5 linked regions of the Homo sapiens genome follow. The protein of the gene in region 1 purifies or fractionates together with the protein of each later gene. This does not show direct contact. Each region holds a gene or a part of one and is shown in the gene's direction. Other genes may lie near its edges. The genes, in order: EFNA5, UTP20, NBAS, MINPP1 and BPNT2.

Region 1 (3,515 bases):
CTTTCTATAGCAGTGAGACCTGAAAAGTACTGTTTGTTTTAATTTGGAGGAGGAATTAGAGAAAGTTCCTGTTGTTCAAGTCAGGAAAGAATTTATTGTTCATCATTTGTATGTGAAAATGAAGAGTAATATGTTGTTGTTCTCTTCTTTCTTTCCTGCTCTCTCTCTGTGTTACCCACAGCCTCTGCAATCCCAGATAATGGAAGAAGGTCCTGTCTAAAGCTCAAAGTCTTTGTGAGACCAACAAGTAAGTTCACTAGAATGAGCTTCAGAGGGTGGCTTCACCGCGCATGCTTTATTGTGTGGTCTGGTTCACGGCGGTAAAACTTTTTTTTACTGTTAAATCTTGTGTGGTATCTGTTTTGTATATCAACATTCATATTTTAGTTTTCATCATATTTTTTCTCATTCTTCATGATGCTTTTACTTAAGTACACAGCAGTTGCTAACTTGTTGTTTCTTAGACTGTTGTACATGCAGAGCAAATGGGAACAATATTGGCATTTGGAACATGCCATTGATTGTAAGACAATCTACATAAAAAAAGAAAAAAAGGAGAGAAAGAAAAAAGAAAGAAATGGGAGTTTAAGGGTGTCTTCACTAACATATTTGGCTGTTATCTCTATTTTTGTTATAGATAGCTGTATGAAAACTATAGGTGTTCATGATCGTGTTTTCGATGTTAACGACAAAGTAGAAAATTCATTAGAACCAGCAGGTTAGTATGCTTAGAGAATCTCTTTTAACAAATGCATCTATTTCTCTGGTGCTTCCGTATTTTTTTCCTTTCTTCTTCTCTGCATGTTTGCATGTTATAGTTGTTGTTCTGCTTTTGCTCATTGCTAGCGATGCTAATATGACTTATATTCTACCTCATTCCTCCAGTATCTTTGTGCAATGCATGTTAGGTAAAATAAAATTTTCTTTTTTGGAATGGGTTTGAGCTAATGCAGTATCCTAATATAGAAGCCCCATCGGAATGCTAAAATCTCACTGCCTTTTACCATATCCTCAGAGCATGCTGGTGAATCACTGTGAATATTAAAGGATCTGTTTTCATGTAAGACACAAAACATTTCTATGTATATGTTCATAAAATTTTATTTTTTATGTCCAAATCTGTAGATAAAAGTAATAAGACTATTGCACAAAATAGAAACTAATTCAACATACTTAGTTTTCTCTAGAAATTTACATGCATCATTGAACTGACCTAAGGAACTTTATTTTATTTAAATATTTTTGCTATTGTCAATAGTAATTGGTCTGGAGAAGTATAATCACATTGCCACCACAAATTCGCACATCTCTTGTGCCACAAATGTACCAGTAGCCTGTTGAGCCAAATGTGATCCTTGATTACCGAGGCAAAATAAGTTTTAAGGATAAATAAAACTTTTCTACGATTGACTTCCACACTCCTAATGTTTCCCATAACTAAAGAAAAATAAAACCTACCAAAGCACTCGTTGAGGCATTAGTCTGTCGCATACTATGGATAATAAGAACCTGTAAATATCCATTCGGTTATCAATTCAGTCTGGCCATTTAATAAAACTAGATTAACTGAGAGGAGTGGTCGCCCTCTACCAACTGCTTATGGAGGGGTGTGCCTGGAGGCCCTGTGTGTTTCCTTCCTCTGTGGTGTCCTCTTCTCCCCGACCTGCTCCAGATCTTCACTGGTTTCCTTACCCATCTCCCTTGATCATCTCAAAGCTTAAGGGAAATAAAATTATTTCCTCTTCATGGAGAGATTTGAGCCCCCTTATGTAAATGGAGAATTTTTTTTTTTTTTTTTTTTTTTGTAGAATTTCTCTTCCTTATGGTCCTAGAAACTAACGGACATTAAGGTCCACTTTTTCCTCCAATATTGTAACCAGGACTGCATAGTCAATGAACCTTAGGGAAACTTACCCTGAGTAAATGCTGTGCCTCAGGACATACAATAGCTTTCCTGTTAAAACTGACAGGAAGAGTTAGAGTTTTTTCCCTGAAGCATTCTTGTTTTCTAAGGCAGGCATCTCACCCAGAGCGCAAATGAGAGGTGTGTACAATGAGCTCTCCGAGGTCTTAGTGGCTCCCCAGGGATCAGTTAGCTGCTTTAGAAAGTTTTAAGGAATGAATGCTGACATGAAGGCATTTTAATTGTGTCCTGGAAATCTGGAGCCATGACTTTGGCTTCTTAAGGTACCAGAGTCCTCACAAGCTCAGGGACTTGGGCCACCAGAGGATCTGCAAGTTACTCAGTATCTCCCTTAACAACCCCAGACTCTACACTCTTCCTTCTATGGCTGAGGAGACTCACCCATGCCACATTGCTGATTAGGTAGATCCAGGTTTAATACTCAGATCTTCTGACTCCTATTCCAACATTAGTATCAAAGTAGTGGTCTCTTACCATTATTAGAGGTATGTTCATAAAGAGGACTTAAGTCTCTTGTCTTTGTTAAGAAGCCACGAGAAGAATGACCAGCATGTTCTAAACAAAAATTACCCAGGATTATGATCTCTTGATACACATTGTGCAGAATGTAGGCATATCTTTCCCATGGTTTTTTTTCCAGGGAATCTCCACTGCCTGTCTATAGCATAGGAGGCTGCTTAGACACCTAACAGATTGCATATTTTTCTCTGGTAATGAAGAGGCACATGGAGGACTATTCTGCCATTAGGAAAATTACCTTTGAATTCCACTAACGATACAATGCAAGATATTGAGATGCTTTCATACATGAACATATACCACTGTCTTTGGGGAAACAAGGTTTTTTTTCACTAAGCATTTAAAATGCACAATGGCCCAAAATTGATGGACATATAACTGCTGGAAGTTTGCAAAAGTTTGGCAGAATGTAGTTCAGTGTGTGCATACGTGTGCTGGGGAGTAGAGCGTAGGTGTACATGCAGGAAAAGCTCCTTGAGTCAGTCAGAGCTATATTTTAAGGGCTTGCTGGTGAGTATCTTCACTAACAAAGTGAGACAAGGTTGAACCACAATTCCTGGCAATAAGAAAACAATAAGAAATGTGTTTCTTACAGGTGTGAGGCACTGTGCCTCACACCTATAATCCCAGCAATTTGAGAGGCTGAGATGGGTGGATTGCTTGAGGCTAAGAGTTTGAGACCAACCTGGACAACACTGTGAAACCTTGTCTTTACCAAAAAAAAAAAAAAAAAAAAAAAAATGTGGTGTGTGTGCCTTTAGTCTCAGTTACTTGGGAGACTGAAGTGGGAGGATTGCTTAAGCCCAGGAGTTCGAGGCTACAGTGAGCTATGATCACGCCACTGTGCTCCATCCTGGGTGACAGAGCAAGATTCTGTCTCTAAGAAGAGAGAGAAAGTCTAGTTGGATTTGCAGTTCTTCACCACTGTGTCGAGCCACTGAGTGAAAGGGTATTTACCTTTCCCCAGCTCTGGGTGTAGACCCAGTCTTTATGAACCCAGCAAGTCTGAAAGGATTCCACTGCATGATCTCAGCGATGTGTACTAATTCACCTGTCTTTGGAATGTATTTGT
Region 2 (3,515 bases), on another chromosome or scaffold:
TCTTATCTAATCCTGAATTTATTTTATTTTTTTCTCTTCCTTCTCATCAAACACTTGGCCCTCCTCCTAACTAGTAACCCTACAGTATACATCATGGAAACATATCTCTGTATCTGTCCTCTCAATATTCTTCCTTTTAGCCTTTAATACTATATATTCTCATTTGCCTAAAAAGAACACTTTTGTACCTGTCCAAGATCTGTTTCTTTCTGCCCCAGGAAGACTCTTCATCTTGCTCTGTTTAACAACTGCATTTTTCCTTTCTCCCGTGTTCCCTTTGGTCTTTTTATTTTTTTTTAATCTTATTTTTATCCAAATACTGCTTACACGTCTGTAGTTTAGGAAGACAAACCAGGTTAAATGGCAGTCATTTGTTTTCTGCTCCCATCTTATTAGCAGCCATCGGGTCTAATGATTTTTAGCTATTTTTTTTCTTTTCTTTCTTCTTTTTTTTTAGAGACGGAGTCTCACTCTGTCGCCCAGGCTGGAGTGCAGTGGCATGATCTCGGCTCACTGCAACCTCTGCCTCCCAGGTTCATGCCATTCTCCTGCCTCAGCCTCCCAAGTAGCTGGGACTACAGGCACCCACCACCACGCCTGGCTGATTTTTTGTATTTTTAGTGGAGATGGGGTTTCACCATGTTAGCCAGGATGGTCTTGATCTCCTGACCTTGTGATCTGCCTGCCTCGGCCAGCTATTTTTTTCTTATATTTACTTTATACTTTTAAATCATCTGAATATACTGCTTTACCTTGGTTTGCTAGTTTTGGTTCTCATGTGTAGACTTCCTCCTATGGCAGATGGACTTTAGTTCCTTTATACCTCTCATGCTCCCAATAGAATTATATTAGAAATTTTGGTTGAATCCATATTCACCACATACTTATATAAACAAGGAGTATTTTATGATTATATGACCTTTTTGTATACATTCTCGTTTTTCTTTTTTTTTTTTTTTTGTCGAGACATAGTCTCACTCTGTCACCCAGGCTGGAGTGTAGTGGTGCCATCTCTGCTTACTGCAACCTCCACCCTCCGGGTTCAAGTGATTCTCCTGCTTCAGGCTCCTGAGTAGCTGGGATTACAGTCATGTGCCCCCACGCCTGGCTAATTTTTGTATTTTTAGTAGAGACGGGGTTTTACCATGTTGGCCAGGCTGGTCTCTTAACTCCTGACCTCAGATGATCTGCCTGCCTCGGCCTCCCAAAGTGTTGGGATTACAGGCATGAGCCACCACACCTGGCCTCATTTTTCTTAGAGTTTATAATTGCCTCGTTCTTTAAAAACTGGAAATTGTTTTCTTTGAATGGCTGGCCAAAGAGTCTGTCTTCCAGCAGCTTTATAAATGTCCTTCACATGACAAAACTGTCAGATAATTTAGCAGCTCAATTTTTCTTTTTCTTCTTTCTTGGAGACATTTCTCCTGGAGCAAGTCCAGTCTAAATGCATTGCTTTCTCTGCCCAGTGCACAAATGTTGTACTGGGACTTCCTTTTGCTTCTCTCTTGTTTCCTGGGTTCCGTGTTCTCTTCTTCTTATAGTTTAGTCTCTAATTTTGGTGGAATTTATTTTTCATAATTTCCTGGGGGTAGGGAGGGTTCATGGAGATAAAATATTGAGATTTAATACATCTGAAAATGTCTTTATTCTCTCCTGACACTGCATTATTAGTAGACAGGGTATAGAATTCTAGATTCTAAGTCATCCTTCCTCAGAGTTTTAAGACATGGCTGCACAGTCTTTAGTTTCCATTGTTCCTATGTAGAGGTCTAATGCCATTGTGATTCTTGATCCTTTGTTTTTGGTCTAGTTTTTTGAATTGTTAGCATCTTCTCTTTATTATATCTGTTAATAAGTGTGATTTTTTTTTTCTTAACTTTAGCTTTTTCTACCAAGCTTTCTGTCATATATTGTGAATTGCTTCTTAATTGATGATGCTGTAGTCAAAGATGAAGCTCTGGCCATTCTGGCCAAGCTCATTCTGAACAAAGCAGCACCTCCCACTGCTGGCTCGATGGCAATTGAAAAGTACCCTCTGGTTTTCTCACCGCAGATGGTGGGGTGAGTTCTAACTTTTTATTCCTGTAATGATGATAAGTTTACCCATTTAAATGTAATGTATCAAGAATACTGTAAAAAAATGATCTATATGTAACAGGAAAGATGTCCATGATAAGTTGTGTGAAAAAAGCAAGTTGTAGAGCTACACACATAGTACGTATAGTATGATCTCATTTTGCAAGGTAAAGCAAAAAGTGTGTATGAACATAGAAAAACATGTGGAAGGATACAGAAACTTGTTAACTTTGTTTAATCAGAAGGATGGTAAGGGAAAGACAGAGGTGACTTAATTTTTTAACCATTTATTTTAAAGTTATTGTAGATTCACGTGCAGTTGCAAGAAATAGTACAGAGAGGTTTCGTATACTCTTCACTCAGATTACTCCATTGGTACATCTTGCATGAGCATACTGCGATATCACAACTGTAGAATTGACATTGGTGCAATCCATCAATCTTATCAGATATCATCAGTTGTATGTGCACTCATCTGAGTGTGTATACTTATATAGATATATAGTCATATGTAGTTTTATCCTGTGTTGATTTGTAACCACCACCAGAGTGAATATCTGGAACTGTTCCCTCACCACGAGGATTCCTCATGCTACCTTTTAATAACCACACTCCTGGCCAGGCGCGGTGGCTCACGCCTGTAATCCCAGCACTTTGGGAGGCCGAGGAGGGCAGATCACGAGGTCAGGAGATCGAGACCATCCTGGCTAACACGGTGAAACCCTGTCTCTATTAAAAATACAAAAAATTAGCCAGGCGTGGTGGCGGACGCCTGTAGTCCTAGTTACTCGGGAGGCTGAGGCAGGAGAATGGCGTGAACCCGGGAGGTGGAGCTTGCAGTGAGCCGAGATCACGCCACTGCCCTCCAGCCTGCACGACAGAGCGAGACTTCATCTCAAAAAAAAAAAAAGAAAAATACAAAAAATTAGGTGGGTGTGGTAGCGGGCGCCTGTAGTCCTAGGTACTGAGGAGGCTGAGGCAGGAGAATGGCGTGAACCCAGGAGGTAGAGGTTGCAGTGAGCCGAAATCATGCCACTGCACTCCAGCCTGGGCGACAGAGCAAGACTCTATCTCAAAAAATAAAATAAAATAAAATAAAAATAAAAATTATATACCTTTGTATTGTTTCAGTTGTTAAGTGTCATGGATTACTTTCTTAATTTCATTCAAAATGACACATTGTTTAGAAGTTAAAAACAAAGCTTATTTACATACATGAGAAGATTTATTGTATCATTTCTCAAATAGTTAAGTGGGTATGCTTCTAGAAACTGTAGCTTAGGAAACCAGTTCCCTTGTCATTCCTTTGTTTTTATACTTAATCTTCTTATTTCTCTTGGAGTAGTTAGACCCGTTGTTGTGTTTTTGGTTTGCTTTGAGGCGGAATTGATGGGCATTCCTTGAGTTTGTGCTGAATACTCGACTTTGAAACATCCATG
Region 3 (3,515 bases), on another chromosome or scaffold:
ATTTATAGATAGAGATATTCTTGTAAATGTTTGCACTGTGTCTTAATGGAAAAATAAGGTTTTTCTTGAAGCAAAAGTAAAAAGACCAGTTTTTAAAAATTACTTGATGCTTTGACTTTGTAGATTACCCTTTTTAACCCAAGTGTTGTCACATTCCCCTGAAAGTTTTAAAACATGATTTATACTAACTTTATCTACATAAACCAAAAACATGTCTTTGGGCACTTTCAGTAAACAAGTTGTCATGTTTCAGAGGAGCTGCTTTAGAACTTTTTGAAGCCTAACTTTGTTGCTGCCCAAGGTCTCACTTACTGCCCCCAGATGCTTCTGTTGCTGCTTCCGAGAACCCTAGAACCTGGGTACTTCTGTGAATGCAGGGCTGCCTGAAGGACTCTTACAATTAGGGAGTATGAAACTCATCACGTAAGGGGCATTGAGATTACACTAGACCACAGGCTCTGTCCAGATTCTGTCCAGGGAGAAGCACAAGACCAAAATTAACCCCCTCCTTTCCCCTTCTAAAAGCACAAACCAATCAACCAAGCAAAAATACCTTACTTTTTCTTTTCCCAAGAGTTTAAGTGACTTTTTAAAATTAGATTACAAAGACATCTAAGTTAGGATGAAAATATTAAGATATGTGTTTTATTTAAGTAGCATTACTGCAGATAACCCAAGTGAAAGTTTAATTATCCCTCTTTTTCTATTTTTCTTTTATCTGGACACAGCATAAAATTTGGGTTTATTGAATATTAATTCAAGACTCTTGCATGTAAATCTTAAGCCTGAAAGTTTAGGGTTTTTTCTGTATCATTTCCTAAATTCCTGAAATAATAAGGCTGTTTATGTTTCTGTGAAGAAGTATAGATTTTTAAACCCTTTTTATGAATGAATAAATGATTAAGAGTGGACGCTGACAGATGTTGGTTTATTTTCTAGCTGGGAGACATCAGACAGCTCTCCCAACTGCAGGAACTTGAAGTTAAAGCTACTTCACAGGGTTGCTGTAGACCCCCGTGAGATAACATGACGAGTGTGTAGTCAGTTAAATGTTAGTAGGCATCTAACACATTTGTTTTCCTTTATTCAGGCTGACTGGCTTCTGGTGGTGGTTTACTGTCTTTGAGTAGGCAGGAAGAAGGGAGCTATAAGAAGTAGTGTTTCTTCCTTGGTTAAAAAAAAAATCACTTTAATAAAGGAACAAAATCTTAACACAGTTCCTTTGGCTCTTAATTTCAGTTTGTCCACACTAGAAATTGAAAATAGAGCCCAAGACCTTCATCTCTTTGAGACTTTGAAGACTGATCCAGAAGCCTTTCACCAGCACATGGTCAAGTATATTTACCCTACTATTGGTGGCTTTGATCACGAAAGGCTGCAGTATTATTTCACTCTTCTGGAAAACTGTGGCTGTGCAGATTTGGGGAACTGTGCCATTAAACCAGAAACCCACATTCGACTGCTGAAGAAGTTTAAGGTTGTTGCATCAGGTAGGATGGTTGTTTCCCTGCTTGAATTCATTCTTTTCAATTAAATCTGGGGATTAATTTTCTGTACACAATCCTGTTCATGCATTATGGTTGCAGAGCTCTGAAACCACAGAATTTTGAAGCTAATCGACTTTAGTTATTATCTTTCCAACTCTTTCACTTATAGTTGAGGGAATTAAATACCAGAAAAAGTAAGAAACCTATTGAAAGTCGCACAGTGACTTATGGTAGACTTGGTACTAAAATCCAAAGTTTTGGACTTCTGCTCCAGGATTTTTTCACTACTCCCATTGATTATATTTTATGTATATAAATGGCAAGGCCAAGACACTTTATAATAGGCAGTTGAGCAGAATTTCATTCCACTGGAGCCTATATGTTTAAAATATGCATGGAACACTTAAGAGCCTTTGAATATTTGATAAATTATGGAAATCTTTAGAATGGTCTTTATGCTCATAACTAAGAAATTAAACACTTTAAGACCTCTTAATTTTTATACTTCATAATTTGCAAGGCACATTCAAATCTGTTTGTTTGATATTCATAATAATTGTGAGAGTTCCCATCAGTTTATCAGTTGTTTTCTGAATAATCAAATGAGACACTGGCCTAGACACAGAGGATAAGGGAATAAGATTCAATCCTTGCCTTCAAGTAACTAGTGAAATGCCAGATAAATAACAAAGAAATGTAATGCAGTTTGTTGAAGCACTGATAGAAGAAAACATAGGTGCTGCGGCGGATTCGAAAGGCATGGAGATATTGTCATCTCTAGGGTACAAACAAGGAGATGGAGGCACACAGAAGATGAATGGCCTATCTGGGATCACAAAGCCGAATAAGTTTCAGGCTGTGACTGGAACTCAGATCTCCTGATCTTTCTAATAGAAAATATAAACTAGCTACTTAGAGCTAAGTTGATAGATCTTTGCGTTCAGACATATAGAGGGCTATGTGTGTGTGTTTGAAAGTGACTCTATGTTTACATTGGAATGAACCACTTACCTACTTTCTTTTTTTTTCTGCTAGGTCTTAATTACAAAAAGCTGACAGATGAAAACATGAGTCCTCTTGAAGCATTGGAGCCAGTTCTTTCAAGTCAAAATATCTTGTCTATTTCCAAACTTGTTCCCAAAATCCCTGAAAAGGATGGACAGATGCTTTCCCCAAGCTCTCTGTACACCATCTGGTTACAGAAGTTGTTCTGGACTGGAGACCCTCATCTCATTAAACAAGTCCCAGGCTCTTCACCGGAGTGGCTTCATGCCTATGATGTCTGCATGAAGTACTTTGATCGTCTCCACCCAGGTGACCTCATCACTGTGGTAGATGCAGTTACATTTTCTCCAAAAGCTGTGACCAAGGTAAACAAAAAGATATTTTAAAGTGGTTTGAGCACAGTAGAAGAAATGAAAATTTCTCCTACATTCTGTAGATTTTATTTTTGTTTCCTTTCTTGAAAATAATTACATGTTGGCTTTTTAAAAAGTTTTTGTTCATTTGCTGTGAATGAGGTGTTTTAATTAGGAAATTTTTTTTCTCTATTGTAGATGTACAAATATGCTAAAATAGAGATGACTATTCTCATTTACACGTATACTTAGTACATGTTACAGTTCTCATGTCACTTTATAGTAAATATGCCATTCTGTTCTTTCCAGTTGACAAATGTAAAGGAGCTCCAGTGCCCAGCCCAGATTACCTGCATTCGGAAACCAGGCTAACAACTTAGCTTGGGTTAGCCTGAGTCTTTAAAAAAGTTATTGGCCGGGCATAGCGGCTCAAGCCTGTAATCCCAGCACTTTGGGAGGCCAAGGCAGGCAGATTACCTGAGATCAGGAGTTTGAGACCAGCCTGGCCAATATGGTGAAATCCCATCTCTACTAGAAGAAAAAAAAAAACCAAAAAAAAAAAAATTACCTGGGTGTGGTGGTATGCACCTGTAGTCCCAGCTACTCGGGAGGCTGAGGCAGGAGAATTGCTTGAACCTACGAAACGGAGGTTGGAGTGAGCTGAGATCAT
Region 4 (4,226 bases), on another chromosome or scaffold:
AAATGCTAATTTGAGCAAAGTTCTACAAAAATATCACTGACCATGAATATTCAGGCATTGACATGCTACAAAATAGCATATCGAAAAGAACATCTGTTGCCCTAAAGATGGTTTCCTGCACAGAACGTCTCCAAATTTTCAGCATTCATAGGCTGGCCCCGTTTCTTCTTGGTTAACATTTAGAGGCACGCCTAAACTTAGAGGAACACCTCTCTAAACCAAGGAGACACTTAAAGAGAAAAGGAGTAAAGATGGTGATGGGCTTATAAAGAGCAATGTAATAGTGTCTTTGAAGCAAAAGCTAACTTAATGAAAACGTGGTCCCAATTTCCTTAAATCTGGATCACCGTACGACTTCTGTAATACTTATTATTTCCCCAGCTGGCAAATAAACTGGAGTTCAAGTGGGAAAAAACAAGGTATTGTTCAGACTTATGATTTTTGGGGTCAAAGATTCTGAGCAATAACCTATTAAAAAACCCAGCTTTTGATTTGAGTATGTAAGTAAGTACATGGGAGGAACGTATGGATCTGGAGTGGTGGTAAATACAGAGCATGTTTGCTTCGCAAAGCAGATTAGCTCATACTTAATAATAGAGTAAATCTGTTGGGCCATGACTCAATGCACCCAAATTCTCTAGATTGCTATGTCTCTACTCGCTAAGCCTTCGGGAACAACAAGCACAGAACTTTTAGGGTGCTGTCTCACTGATGTCGGCGTTAGCTCTGGTAGTCCAGGTCAAGATTATACCAAAGATTCAGGACTTAAATTCCTGCAGAATGTAAGCCCCTTTCCAAGTTCTCTGCTTTACTGTATCCTGTTTATTTTCAAACTCAAATGGAAAAAAACGAAACAAAAACCTTGGGCTTCAAGAGGCATCCTGCCGCAAGGCCCAGCGATGTGAATTTTCAACAACCGTCTCAGGCAGATTTCATGCTGATGGTTCAGGCACTAAACTTTGAAAAACACAGTATCACAGAGTAGGGATGGTGATGTAAGAGTCATCTGTAAAAGCTGTGCTGTTTTGGCAGCCTGGGAGGCTAAGGTTTAGTCTAGGCGACTAAGGTTTAGTCCGGGCTGTATTCACACCCAAAACAACTAAAAAAGCGGAGGAGTCTTTGAGTCAATCCCTGAAGCTCCGGCTAAGAGGAAACTCGCCCACGCTCCAGGGCAGCGACGCCGGCTCCACCTCAGCCACGGCTGTCTCAAGCTTCTCGGGGTTTTCCGCCGGCTCCACCCGAGCCACAAGTCTACAGGACTCCTCGGAGCTTTCCGCCGGGACGCAAGACCCACCGCCAGAGGTTGGTACCTCCTAGAGAACAGCGAAGCGCATCCCGAGGGCCGCCGGCCGGAAGCGCCCTCCAGACCCGCCCCCTGCCCTCCGGAGCCGGAAGCTGGGCATCTGCAGCTGGCTCGGCGCACTCCACTGACCGTCCCGACGATGCTACGCGCGCCCGGCTGCCTCCTCCGGACCTCCGTAGCGCCTGCCGCGGCCCTGGCTGCGGCGCTGCTCTCGTCGCTTGCGCGCTGCTCTCTTCTAGAGCCGAGGGACCCGGTGGCCTCGTCGCTCAGCCCCTATTTCGGCACCAAGACTCGCTACGAGGATGTCAACCCCGTGCTATTGTCGGGCCCCGAGGCTCCGTGGCGGGACCCTGAGCTGCTGGAGGGGACCTGCACCCCGGTGCAGCTGGTCGCCCTCATTCGCCACGGCACCCGCTACCCCACGGTCAAACAGATCCGCAAGCTGAGGCAGCTGCACGGGTTGCTGCAGGCCCGCGGGTCCAGGGATGGCGGGGCTAGTAGTACCGGCAGCCGCGACCTGGGTGCAGCGCTGGCCGACTGGCCTTTGTGGTACGCGGACTGGATGGACGGGCAGCTAGTAGAGAAGGGACGGCAGGATATGCGACAGCTGGCGCTGCGTCTGGCCTCGCTCTTCCCGGCCCTTTTCAGCCGTGAGAACTACGGCCGCCTGCGGCTCATCACCAGTTCCAAGCACCGCTGCATGGATAGCAGCGCCGCCTTCCTGCAGGGGCTGTGGCAGCACTACCACCCTGGCTTGCCGCCGCCGGACGTCGCAGGTGACCCCCCGGGCGGCCCGTGTGCTGTCCCGGTCCTCCCACCCGCCCTGGATGCTCTCCCGCCTCCCCCAGACCCTGGGCTTTTCCGATGCCCCCCAGTTCTCTTTCCTCTTTTCCCAAGCCATCATCCCTCGGGCTACGTCCTCCCTGTCGAGGGATATTACAGACTTGGCTATCTCTTTTTCCCCTTACACGTATGTTCATTTATTAATTCATCAGGTGTAAATTCAGCACCTTGTACTCGCTGCCTGCTTTAGTAGAGTTGGGGATCCAACAGGAAAGGGGACAGACGAGGTCTCCCGCAATTTTTGCGCTCCCGTTCCCAAACTGAATTGCCCCTTCGAGCGCCAACCCATCCCTTCCCCCTTCCCTGGCGTCTAGTTTCACAATTGGGCGCACGTTTTAAAAAACAGAATCTAGAATTTTCTTCCTCGGGCTTTGCTTCCGATACTAGTTTTTCCTTCTTTCTTTTTTTTTTTTTTTAAACTCATCATCTTTTTCAGATGACAGTTTTAGACCTACACCCTGTTTTAGGAACCTGATCTCAAGCCTTTGTGTCCTCCTTTTTTCTTCTGTTTTGTTCATGTTTTTACTGTAGCGTTCCCATCGTTGTAGCTGTGGTCCGTGGTCACAAGCAGTAACAACTCATTTATTCCATTAATTACACTTTTTCGAAATTTGAGAAATCATCTAGTAAGGCCCCGTTATTTCACAGGTGAAGAACCCGAGCCCAAGAGTATGCCTTCTTAATTGTCTTTCTCTAAGGTCTAGTATCCAAGTCTTCTGTTTTCCTAGAATGGTTCTTTTTCTCTTAGAAAATGTTGTAATAGTTACAAATAATAATGATAGCATACACCTCATGCCTATTGTATGCCAGGTATGCCTCACATTTATTTTACAAAATCCTTACAACCACAATCTGGAGTTGATAGTATTTTCCCCTTATCTCAAAGATGAGGAAATTGATACACGAACACATTAAATAATTTGCCCATTTTCATACAGCTAGCTGTGGACCCAGGAAATCTGATTCAGAGCTTGCTTTCTTAGCCATTATGCTATACTGCCTCCATTTGTCCAATAACATACCTAATAAGAATAAAAACATGTAACATTTTTGTACCACAGAGATGAGCAAGCATTAATAGTTTCTTGATCACTTTTAAGGCCAGAATTGAAGTGAGGATTATTGTTTAGCTTCAAAGCCCAAGTGAAAAATTAGAAGTAGGCTGGTTTGTAATTTCTTCTGTAGCTGTTGAACAGTGAAACCATCTGTAAGGGATTTCTCCACTGATTCTGTGTCATGTTATTGTGGGTAATTCAGTTAGCTGACTTGTGTCTAATTACTTGTTGAACTGTGTTTTTTTTTAAATATATACTTTTTCCATTAGCATGAGTGAAAATTCCTCATAAATCTGTTAAATTAACAGAATGGTGAAAGCAGAACATATTTTAATATAACACAATATCTATAGCGACTTCCTGGAACAAGTGAATTTTTGTTCTCAGATGGCATTGCGAAGACTGGCATTTGACTCTCAGTACAGAGCCAGGGATGAAAATACTACAGTTCAGAATAAGCCCACTCCTGACCGTTTTCAGTGTCAGATAGCAAACCCTTTGCCTAGCCACTTTATTATTCTCTATAGACAATAGTTTTGCCTATTATGTACATCTGGTCTTTTGAGGGAGTCTGCTGAATTAGATTTGTAGTTTTGTAGAAACAGAACAATGCCTTTGTTTTTGTTTAAAGACTAGCAATAATTAGATAGTAACAAGGATAAAATACCCAGATGCACTTGGGAAATTATATTTTAGTGTACACAGAAAAAAGGTGACAAAGTTCGCTTATTTTCCTAGTCAAGATATTTTCTTAAGAATTGCAATCCAGTTGACAAAGTGGGCAGAATTATCCATTTCAAGAGAAACAAACATACATACTGATTTTTTTTGCATACACATCCAAAGCCCAGATAAAACTATATTCAATTTTCTCATATTTTATGTACAAAAATGATATACTTGGTGTTCTTTTCGTGGTAAATTGTTGGAGAAATGATTGAAAAATGTGTGTTTTGAATATGACTGAAAAAAACGTAAAGGGCACACCAGTAGTTGAAGCATGATTATGAATGCTTCTCCAATAC
Region 5 (4,308 bases), on another chromosome or scaffold:
AATGATGCTTTTAATATTGACATGATTACTATCCAACTCATCTTTTTGCTGCTGTCATAGTGTAGGTTGGGGTGGTTCTGTTTAACTTAAACCTTTATATTTCAACCCTGATGTTTATCTTTATCCCTGGGATGGGTTTTGAGAATTACTCTGTGACATTCACTTTTAGATATTTGAAAGCAGCTTTGCTTCATTGCAAAGTTACTCTCAAAAGCTGACAAGAAAGGCAATGCTAGTTCTTTAAGTTCTGGTGCTGTCAATACTCTAGGGATTGTTCTTTCACTGATTTGTATTTGTACTTGATTTTGTGCTGTGATTCTGGCAGGGAAATCACAGTGCTTTTGTTGTATGTGTATAATCTGGCAGTGCTTTTGTTGTATGTGTATAATCACATGCAAATTCTAGGGATGCCCTGAACTCTAAGTAAGCGGTAAAGGTCAGGCTCTACATGACTTGCTTAGCAATGGATGTTTAGAAGTTTGGTATACTTGCAGTTTTTCAGGTGGTTAATTCTAAAGTCCACTTAAAACCAATGCTGTTTTGCTATGAACAGTAAAACAGGCTACATTTTAAGTTGATTTATATAGATATTTTAACATTTAAGAACAATACTATACATCTTAATATTCACTTTTAAGATTAAAGATAAACTCATGAATACTTATAAAGTATTCACTATCATTCTAGCTAAGATCGGTGTTATAGTAGAAGGTAGTTATTTCTGTCAAAATACTTCGAGAGCCTACGCTGACTCAAAGATTACATGTTCTAGACTGACCATCTCCGGATAACCTCTATTTTAAGTGGACTCTGTCAAGCAATTCCTCTTCTTAAGCTCTGGTAGGAGAGCCAGGCTCGAGTACCCTTGGAAATGAGAGAAGCCTGGTTTGCTTTCTTTCATTATGAAAAACCCGGATCAAGGCATGTTTTTCAGCTGCTTCGAGGATGGTTTATTCTGGCAGGTGGAGGAGAGAAACTCTATACACACATAAGCATTTAGGGCACGACAAAGATGTCAACAGAATGAAGAGCCAAGTACAATTCTTCCCCTCACCGCCCAGTTCCCCGTCCTGCCGGGAAGAGCGCGGAGAAGCGACTTAAAGGTACAGGCTGTCTACACCCCCGCTGGCTAAAAAAGCTTGCAAATCAATCTTTTAAAATGGTTTATTGTGTTTTCCTCCATTCCTCAATAATCTGAGAGTGATGAGAAGACTAGACTGTTACTGTGGGTTTATTACAGCCAGCCATAGTCGTACAATGGGATATTTAATTTAAACACCCACAAGGCACTCAGCACAGCACACTGTCCTGTGCGGATTGCTGCTCGCCACTTCCAGGAATACCTTCCCACCCAGACCAAGGAAGGCAGCTCAGTCCAGCGCCTCCTGTCCCGCCCCGCCCCGCCCCAAGGGGAGGTGCCCAGCTCTCCCCGCCCCTCGCCCTCGCCCTCGCCCCGCCCCGTCGCGTAACCCGGATACACACCCACGCTCCCCTTTCACCTCGCGGCCGTAGGCTAACGTGGAAGTCGGACCAGCCGGCCGGCGGAAGAACCTAGAGCGCGCTGCCTGGCGAGTCAGGCGCGCGGGGCGGCGTTGGTGGTCTTCGCGGCGCAACTCGGCCTTTCCTGGGAGGGAGTGATGGGGCGCACCGGGGCCGGGGAGCGGGCGCCAGTGTAGCCCGCGCGGCGCCTGGCCCGGAGCGCGGCGGCTGCGGCGGCGGCGGCGGCGGGCGCTGGAGGCCTGTGAGAGCCGCAGCCCGGAGCGCCCGGCTTCCCACGCCATGGCCCCCATGGGCATCCGCCTTTCCCCACTGGGGGTGGCAGTGTTTTGCCTGCTGGGGCTCGGCGTGCTCTACCACCTCTACTCGGGCTTCTTGGCCGGCCGCTTCAGCCTCTTCGGCCTGGGCGGCGAGCCTGGCGGCGGCGCGGCGGGGCCCGCGGCCGCGGCCGATGGGGGCACCGTGGACTTGCGCGAGATGCTGGCTGTGTCAGTGCTGGCCGCAGTCCGCGGCGGCGACGAGGTGAGGCGCGTCCGCGAGAGCAACGTCCTCCACGAGAAGTCCAAGGGGAAGACGCGCGAGGGAGCCGAGGACAAGATGACCAGCGGCGACGTGCTGTCCAACCGCAAGATGTTCTACCTGCTCAAGACCGCCTTCCCCAGCGTCCAGGTGGGAGCCCACGGGCGGAGCGCCCACTCGAGCCGGGTAGCGCGTCTCGGCCCGTCGACTCTTAACAGTATGGGATGTGGAGCTTCTGGTTCCATTTTGTAGATGTGGAAATTGAGACGCAGAAGTTAACGTGCACAAGGTCAGACAGACAGCAGAGGAGCTGGGTGAGGTTGCACGTAGTCTGACTCAGGGCCCGTGCCCTTTTGGCTCGTCCTGGGTCGGGTGTGCGCCGTGTGTACCTGGGATCAGAAGGCCTTGAAACGAAAAGGCTGACAAAGTTAATTGCACCCGCAGCTTCAGGCTCCTCTGTAGAATTAAGGGGTTGGCTAAAATCCACCAAGACTCTCTATCCTTCCTTGATTTCATCCCTAGAAGGGTCGAAACTGGAGTACACATTTTCTGGGTGGCCTGCCAGTAGCCAGCTGAAAGACCGAGTCTTGTTGCAGAGCTGTTAGTGTGCGGGGCATTTGTGTGTGCGTGTGTGCGCTCGCGGGAGTCGGGGTGGGGGGGTGGGGGATGAGTATGCTCATTTCGCTGTCTTTTTGTCAGGACGCTCTAAAGTTTATAGTTTGCGGGCCCTTTAAGGAGGTACTTAGAAATATACCAGCTGTTGGTCCTACCTGGCCCTTGATTAAAGATCCATATTTACTCCAGAGAATAAGAATTAAATAACATTTGGCTTTTCTTTGGGTAGGTTTCTGGGAAGGGAGTTGACATTTTCTTAAGGAAATCCAGACATTTTGGATTTGTTATTAATACTTTTTGAATTCATCATTTCACTGGAGCTGCTATTGAGTTGAATAAAGCATATTTAAAATTTGCAGTTCCAGAAACTGCAAATTTTGTTGAGGAAGAGCTCAGCATAGCGTAGCAGCACCTTATTAACGTATATCTTAACTCACCTAACTGTAGTTTTGGCTACTGGGAAGAAAAATTGTCTTCACTGGAATTTTATTAGATAAACAGTGATGTGCAAACCCAGGCTTCTTTGGAAGGTGACTGACCTTTTACTGCTGATCTTGAAAGAGTTAGGAGAATATTGTCATTGTTTAGTTATGTATTTTGCATAAGGCTTCTTCCAGTCTATCATAATATTGCTTTGGTTTTGTTTTTTATTCTCCTCTCTTCCTCCCTTTTCTTTCGTCTTTTTCTTTTTCCAGTGGAAAGGAACATTGTATTTCCTAACATGAGCTACTGGATACCAGATGTAATTAACGTTAGAATTTTTTTTTTCAAATTTCTACTTAAAACACAGAATATTTCCACTTTTTCTTCTTCCCTACTCTGTTTTTATCATCACAAATAATACTTAAATTTTTTTGCATCTAGATGTAAGGTGTGTTTATGAAATATTTTACCCCCTTTCCAAAACATACGTGTTTCCTTCCCCAAGAATTTATAGAGGAAACAGGAGATTCAGAGAAGTTGCTATTTAATGGTTATAACAGTACTAATAATAACCATTTATTGAATATATTTTACATGCCCAAATACTGGCTACACAGGACTTCATTTGATCCTTAACAGCAACTTTAAGAAGTAAATTTTATTTCTGCCTACTATACAAACGGGAAATCTGAGGCTCGTGACACTCCAGCTTATATGAACTATCCCACATTTTAGCTAGATTTTTAGAAGGCTATTTAAAACTTATAATTGTAGAAGCTTAAAAGCAGTAATAGTGAAATACAGCAAGCAGAGTTGATTTTTCTTTTTTTAAGTAAAAACAAAAGTATCTTAAATGTTGAAAACACATCTGTATGTGTGTGCATTCTCATTTATTAGCAAACAATAAGGGAATGGCTGCCAAGGGCAGTGAGCTGCATTTTATTAACATAAAAGCTAAGCTTTTGGAATTGCAGATGTTGAAGTCTCTGGCTTAATATAAAACAACTTCTTGTTTTCTTGTGACTATTTGAATGTTTGCATGTGCTTCTGTAGTATTCATGTTGGGTCATGACTGAAGGAATAGAAGAGGTTTGTGATCATTTATACAGTGTCAAAGTAGGGATGGTGTCATGTTGAGCGATCTCCTTATACCCCTGTGTTATAGGCTAGAGGCCAAATATTGTAGCCAACTAAGTGGAGAATCAACCTAAAAGGAGTCTTTCTCCTTTTTTGCCTTCCCCTCTCCTAATGCCC

The links.
Region 2: the proteins of EFNA5 (region 1) and UTP20 purify together in Homo sapiens (affinity purification with mass spectrometry; one large-scale study listed by BioGRID and IntAct). This does not show direct contact.
Region 3: the proteins of EFNA5 (region 1) and NBAS purify together in Homo sapiens (affinity purification with mass spectrometry; one large-scale study listed by BioGRID and IntAct). This does not show direct contact.
Region 4: the proteins of EFNA5 (region 1) and MINPP1 purify together in Homo sapiens (affinity purification with mass spectrometry; one large-scale study listed by BioGRID and IntAct). This does not show direct contact.
Region 5: the proteins of EFNA5 (region 1) and BPNT2 purify together in Homo sapiens (affinity purification with mass spectrometry; one large-scale study listed by BioGRID and IntAct). This does not show direct contact.

What each region holds. Positions count from the first base shown.
Region 1 is NC_000005.10:107,384,438-107,387,952, reverse strand, and holds part of EFNA5 (ephrin-A5 isoform 1 precursor), read left to right. Parts: intron 1-181; coding exon 182-247; intron 248-637; coding exon 638-718; intron 719-3,515. UniProt on the Homo sapiens protein: Cell surface GPI-bound ligand for Eph receptors, a family of receptor tyrosine kinases which are crucial for migration, repulsion and adhesion during neuronal, vascular and epithelial development.
Region 2 is NC_000012.12:101,293,598-101,297,112, forward strand, and holds part of UTP20 (small subunit processome component 20 homolog), read left to right. Parts: intron 1-1,882; coding exon 1,883-2,061; intron 2,062-3,515. UniProt on the Homo sapiens protein: Part of the small subunit (SSU) processome, first precursor of the small eukaryotic ribosomal subunit.
Region 3 is NC_000002.12:15,274,826-15,278,340, reverse strand, and holds part of NBAS (NBAS subunit of NRZ tethering complex), read left to right. Parts: intron 1-1,239; coding exon 1,240-1,490; intron 1,491-2,522; coding exon 2,523-2,857; intron 2,858-3,515. UniProt on the Homo sapiens protein: Involved in Golgi-to-endoplasmic reticulum (ER) retrograde transport; the function is proposed to depend on its association in the NRZ complex which is believed to play a role in SNARE assembly at the ER. Required for normal embryonic development.
Region 4 is NC_000010.11:87,503,474-87,507,699, forward strand, and holds the start of MINPP1 (multiple inositol polyphosphate phosphatase 1 isoform 1 precursor), read left to right. Parts: upstream 1-1,419; 5' UTR 1,420-1,442; coding exon 1,443-2,079; intron 2,080-4,226. UniProt on the Homo sapiens protein: Multiple inositol polyphosphate phosphatase that hydrolyzes 1D-myo-inositol 1,3,4,5,6-pentakisphosphate (InsP5[2OH]) and 1D-myo-inositol hexakisphosphate (InsP6) to a range of less phosphorylated inositol phosphates.
Region 5 is NC_000008.11:56,991,057-56,995,364, reverse strand, and holds the start of BPNT2 (Golgi-resident adenosine 3',5'-bisphosphate 3'-phosphatase), read left to right. Parts: upstream 1-1,497; 5' UTR 1,498-1,779; coding exon 1,780-2,166; intron 2,167-4,308. UniProt on the Homo sapiens protein: Exhibits 3'-nucleotidase activity toward adenosine 3',5'-bisphosphate (PAP), namely hydrolyzes adenosine 3',5'-bisphosphate into adenosine 5'-monophosphate (AMP) and a phosphate.